Regions from separate parts of the Homo sapiens genome. Here region 2 is linked to region 1. A link means that fine-mapping ties the variant in region 1 to the expression of a gene that starts in the linked region. Tissue or cell type: stomach. Region 1 holds a variant in brackets; the other region holds the start of a gene. All regions are shown on one strand. Distances are from middle to middle.

Region 1 (2,896 bases):
GGGCATGGTGGCTCATGCCTATAATCTCAGCACTTTGGGAGGCTGAGGCAGAAGGATCACCTGAGGTCAGGATTTTGAGACCAGCCTGGCCAACATGGTGAAACCCTGTCTCTATTAAAAATACAAAAATTAGCTGGGCATGGTGGCAGGCACCTGTGTCGTCACTATCTCCATCTGTCTTCAGAACCGTCCTGCTTCTCCCTCTCTGTCCCCACTTCTTACCCTTTGGCTCCTGTCTGTTTCTCCTTTCGCTCTTGTAACCTCCCTTCCCAGCCCTCACCACTGCTCCAGCCTCTTTTCCCAAGTCCTGCCTTGGCCTCTCTGCCTCTCCCTCCCTCCCCTTTCCTCCTCTGCTGCTCATTATAAAAAATAAATATTTCTAAATACGCCAAAAATGCACTCATCCCCCAAGGACCCCTGTCTAGCACAAAGGGCTGGTTCTTTCTGGCTGCTCCCTGTGGCCTCCTTCTTGCCCACTGCCTTTGAATCGTGGCCTCATTCACATGACTGGAAGGGCTAACAGGGCATTTTCCCACGTGTCCGGGTGGGGAGGAGGACAGGGTCGGGGTGGTAAGTTGGATGAAGGAGGGTGGAGACAGGCAGCTGAGAATCTTCCCAAAATTTGGCTCATCCTCAGGGGAAACAAACTGCTTACTTGATATCATGACTAACTCCTTGGAACCTACAGGATCCATTAGCGATGCGGGAAAGATTCGGGTTAGAAATCAGAATGACCATGCAAACCATGAGGACAGCCACCATGTGGAATGTTTGGTCCCCATGGCACAAAGATTTGGGCTTCTTCCTGGGATGAGTTGGGATCCCTTTGGCATGGAGGCAGAGGGGGGGCTCCGTGATTCCTGGGAGACCCTCTGGATGTGAGCACCTCTGAGATTCTGGAGGGAGCCCAGGGCTCCCTGTGCTCTGTCCTCCCACCCCACACCCCACCCTATGCTCTCTGCTCTCTGGTCAAGTCCCTGGTCCGCGGGAGCACTGACCTAGAGTGTGGAAGCTCCTCCCCTTGAAAGCTGGGCTGACCTTGCTTCAGCTGAGTCCAGGAGAAAACACACATCTGACACACCCCAGGGCTGGGGGAAGGGAGGCAGGAGCAGAGGAGGGGAGCATCCAAGGTCCTGAAGTTCCAGAAGGAGTCCAGCCTTCTCACAGAGCCTGAAGCATAGGCATGGGCAGAGCGGGTGCCGGACCTCCAAATGGCTCTCCCTCTGCACTGTGGAATCACTCCCGCAGGAGGCAGGTGGTGGGAGAAGGCCTTGGCCTCAGCATTCCCCTGCCCTTGTGTCCTCCTGTTCTGAATTTCCTAATCTCTTTCCTGCATGTCCCCTCAACAACCTCCCCTCCCCTCCCTTCCCCACCCCACACCACAGCAGCTGGGCTGCTGGAAGTCGGGAGTGTTTATGAGTTAATCAAAAACTCCTGTACTTTGCTCTTGAATTGAGGCCATCATTCCTTTGTCCCAGGGCAATGGGGTCAGTTTG[A/T]TCTCTCCTGGCTTAAATAGTGTGTAGCAAAGTAAAAGGGAAAAGTGGGGGAAGGAGAAGGGAATTTAAATTTATCAAGGGCCCCCTGCTAAACATCACGCCCTGGGCTGGGTGCTCTGCAGAGACCAAGCTCACAGCCGTGCTAGTAGCTGGGTGTTTCCATGTTACATTGAGGAAACCAAGTTGCAAAGACTTAAAGAAACCTGCCTCAGATCTCATAAATATGAAGGAAAGTGCTTTGAGGCTTCCAGTAGAGTTTGGAGGGTGTTCCTAACCCAAGATTGGGTTAAAAAATTCCATGATTGTCCACAGAATATGGACAGAAAGCTGAGAATAGCTGTGATGTTCCAGCTTGGAAAGAAGTGGGGGGTGGGAAGGGCTGAGAGGAGGCAGGGGCTGCATGCAGACTGGGCTCCTATCCAGAGGAAGAGCCCCAAGGGGGATTGGGAAGGCTTGTGAGGTTGGAAATTATGGATGGAGGGGGCTAAAGAGGAGGCCTAGAACTCCCCACTCCAAGAGCCCTGGAGAATCCCGGTCTGGCCTGAGAAGATCAGGAGTTTGGGATAAATTGCTAGAGAGGCCTTGTCCTCATGTGGGCCAAGTAAGCCCTTAAAATGGGTGCCCAGCAAAGCAAGGGGGTCTGAGGTGGCCCAGCTCTGTCCCTGCTCCCCACAGACACCTGCTACCCTGGGCATCCTACAGCTGCACTCAATCTGCCCCTCCTTCCTTCCTAGGCCTTAGGAAATATCTGTTCATTTTGTTTCTTTCCACTTTCTCTCTCCCCTTCTTCCTGTCTCCCTTCATCTGCCTGCTCCTCCCCAATCTGTCCTGAAGAGTACATTTCTTTCCCCATCAGGGAGCCTTGTGGGAATCTGGGGGGCCTGGGGCTGAGGAAGAAGAGACTTCAGATCCAAGAGCAGCCCTGAAGGATTGAGGGAGGCAGAAGGGGTGTCAGCCACTGGGCAGAGGAGTTCCTGGCAGCAGGGAGGGCCATGAGATAATTAGCCCTAGAGCTTTCTAGGCCTCTGGAAAGATGTGGGGTACAGGAACAGAAGGGAAGGAAGAGGCAGGTCAGGACTGGGGGAACTCAGGTTCCCTGGCCTGCCTGACAGAGACAGCACATGGTAGAGTTGAGAGGGGAGCCAGGGTCAGGGACAGGGCAGGCAATGGGAAAGAACAGGGACATTCCCAGGCTCAGGAGTCCCCAGGTCTCCCAGGGGAGGGTAGTCCTCGCCTGAGGTTAGGTGGCGGGCCCCGACTGGCTGGGAGTGGGTTTCTGTACGTGGCTGGAGGTGAATCACACCTTCTGTGTGGGTTGCATGTTTATATGTGGGTGTGCCGAGTCAGCATGCGTTGTCCTGCGTGTCTGCTGGTGTATGTAGGTGTTACTGGTGGGTGAC
Region 2 (2,896 bases), 26 kb after region 1:
GGTAGCGGGAAGGGCCCCTGGATGATAGCAAGAGGCCGATTCTAGCCGGACCCTGCAGTTCACATGGCCCTGTGCTGGGGAAGCCCTAGAAGGGAAGGAGGCTGCAGAGAAGGGAGTTTTCACCCATCAGTAATCAAGGTCCCAACAGAAGTGAAAATGGAAGTCAGGGAACAATTGGTTTTGAGCATCTTCGTGGGGCTTTTTCCCTTGCCTGGGACTGGCAGGACAGTGTAGGTCTGAGCAGCTTCCACGATACACACGGGGACACTTAAGCCCAAAGAATTTTTAAAACGTGCCTAAATTCCACAACTAATCAGAGGAGGCAGCAATCCAGATCTCCTGGTCTTCACCCTTCTTATTGTTGGGGTGCACCGCAGGGCACGCATGTTTCCTTGTGGCTTGTGGGAAAGCCACTGTCGTGGAGCGCCAGCGTCCCGAGTCCCTGGAAATTCTCCCAAGTGACCTGGAATCCAACATTTCCCTGGATTTTCATAGTCTATAATAGAGAGAAAGAACCGGGTCTGCGGTGGTGGGCAGGACTGAGGAAAGGCCGTGAATGCGGGAAGCACGGGAGGCAGGACTGAAAAGGAAAGAGGCACAGGGGCTCACAAAACCTGAGGGCCGCGTCCCAGTGGGTGACCTGACCCATCAAGGTCTAACACCTGGCCGTGGCAAAGCTGGGCGAGAACCCCCGATCCACCCTCCCAGTGTGGGGCAGGGAAAAGGCAGAGTGCAAAGCGAGGTCTGATTTTGCAGAAGCTTTTTAGAAATTCGCTGTCAGAGAAACTGAAAGACCAAACAAAACCCCTAAAAATCCAAGCCCGATTATTTCATCCACGTGGCACAAAAGCAAGCCAAAAAAAAAAAAGCGGGGGGGGGGGGTGGCGGTGCAGGGCGGGGGAAGAGTCACCCGTCCTGCCCCTGCTGGAAGGAAGGGATTTGCCCCGGGAGAGCAAACTTCTGACTCCGCCTGGGTCGCTGACTCCGCGCGGCCGGGCGGGAGGGAGGTCGAGGAGGCCGCTCGCACAAAGCCGCGGAGCCGCTGCCCCCTCTCCCCGCCCCCTGCCCGGCCAACGCCGAAGTGCGGAGAGCAGCCGCGGGCCCTTTAAGGGCCGCGAGGTGCGCGGTCTCTTTAAGGCGGGTCCTGGTGGTTTCTGTTTTCTGAAGGAAGTGACGGGGGGTGGGATTGAATGAAAAGTGCAAAACACAGGCTCGCAGCGCTGGAGCCCGGGGCCGCGGAGCCGGGCCGGGGCAGCGCCGTCTCCGCCTCGGGGCCGCCGGGGGCGCCCTGCTGAGCGCTACCCACGTGCGTCCGCGCCACCTCGCGGGCGACCCCGCGGCCAAGGCCCCCGGCGGAGCGGCTCCCGGGCGCCCCGAACTAGCCCCCAACTTTGGGCGAAGTTTGCCTGCGCCTCTCCCCGCCCCCACGCGGCGCGCCGGGGCCGCGGACGGCAGCGGCCCCCGGGGATGCGCCTTCCCGGGGTACCCCTGGCGCGCCCTGCGCTGCTGCTGCTGCTGCCGCTGCTCGCGCCGCTGCTGGGAACGGGTGCGCCGGCCGAGCTGCGGGTCCGCGTGCGGCTGCCGGACGGCCAGGTGACCGAGGAGAGCCTGCAGGCGGACAGCGACGCGGACAGCATCAGCCTCGAGCTGCGCAAGCCCGACGGCACCCTCGTCTCCTTCACCGCCGACTTCAAGAAGGTGAGGCGCCCTCACTCGCCGGGGTGGCACCTTCAAGCCTGAGCCCCCCGGGATCCCAGGCGCTCTCTTGCCTGCAGACGGAAAGACGGGCCCAGGAGGGAGACGCAGCTGGCCCAAGGTCACGCCGGGCTCTTCTCTACACCTCTTTGCCCACTCCCCAGGGCCCACCCCTTCATTCTCTCCAAAGAACCCCTCTGCTTCCCTTTCTCACTCCCTCCTCCAGCGCTCCCAGAGCCCCCCAGGTGCTAACCCTCCTCCAGAACTCCTACTAACGACTGGACTCCCTTCTTGGAGTCATTCCCCTGTGCTCTAGTGGGAAAGTCCTAGGCGAAGTGTTCTCGCTGTGGGCTCTCACTGTGGGTTCTCCCTGTGTGATCTAGAGCAAGCAAGCCTCTTTCCTCCTATGGGCCTGGCTTCTCACCCCTGTACAGGGCACTGAGGGGTCTGCGAGGCCTCCCAGCCCTGACATTTTGGAGTCCCTCTGTCACCTCTCCCTCTGTTTCACTTTTCTGGGGAGAGCTGGTTGCCCCTGGTCCCTCTCAAGCCGGGAGAAGCCCTGTCTCCTCTTTGGTCTGGAAGGCTGGGGCGCTTGCAGCAGGAGGATCCTGGAGAGAGACCCCAGCTGAGGCCCCCTCCCTCTGGGAGAAGTGCTGCCCTTCACTCTGCCTGGCAGAGAAGCGAGCCAACCCCCCTATTTTGGCCCAGATTAGGGTTAGGGAGTTAGAGACCAGCCCGGTGGGTGGGTGGGTGGGTGGGTGTGGGTGTGTGGGTGTGTGTCCCAGATTACGGTTTGGGAGTTAGAGACCAGCCCGCTCTTGGTGTGTGTGTGTCTGTGTTGGAGGGAATAAGAAGGGCCTTGCACCCAGGGGGCTGGGGGATTATCAGGAAATGGGCCTGGATGGTGAGTGACTAACAGTGACCCAGCAGCAGGAAAGCTGGAGGAAAAGAGGGTGGGTAAGTCTTAGGTATTCAAAAGGAGCGTTCTGTCTCCTTCCCCCAGCTAAAGAGAGGCCCTGTGAGGCTCTGTCCCTGGGGGAGTGCAGGGGTGAAGCCGATTAGATAGCTGGGGGAGCCCGGGGCCCCGGGGACCCTTGCTGAAGCTGCCTGTCTTTCCTCCCTCGTAGAGACAGGGCGCTTTAGAGGAGAGGTGGCGGAGTTTGGGAAGTCAGTTAGGGACCCAGCCAGATTGCCATAGTTA

Direction of the effects. Positions count from the first base shown, and alleles are read on the strand shown. Sizes are in standard deviations (SD) of each study's normalised expression.
With allele A in place of T in region 1, the expression in stomach of the gene that starts at base 1,220 in region 2 is lower (moderate effect, 0.49 SD a copy in GTEx).

What was found. PIP is the estimated chance that this variant, and not a neighbour inherited with it, causes the effect.
Region 2: OAF starts here. The variant in region 1 is fine-mapped to the expression of OAF in stomach (GTEx, PIP above 0.99). The same link has a PIP of 0.9 or more in atrial appendage, esophagus muscle, gastroesophageal junction, left ventricle, lung and pancreas.

The regions. Positions count from the first base shown.
Region 1 is chr11:120,184,212-120,187,107 of GRCh38, forward strand. LOC124902773 (a long non-coding RNA gene) reads right to left here and starts at 1,387. Exons shown (of 2, transcript XR_007062923.1): 1 at 1,039-1,387. LOC105369530 (a long non-coding RNA gene) reads left to right here and starts at 1,982. Exons shown (of 3, transcript XR_948101.2): 1 at 1,982-2,896. The variant A/T (reference allele first, on the strand shown) is at 1,497.
Region 2 is chr11:120,209,813-120,212,708 of GRCh38, forward strand. OAF (out at first homolog) reads left to right here and starts at 1,220. Exons shown (of 4, transcript NM_178507.4): 1 at 1,220-1,698. The coding sequence starts at 1,468. RefSeq lists an enhancer at 1-514 and silencers at 848-1,107, 1,288-1,337, 1,428-1,537.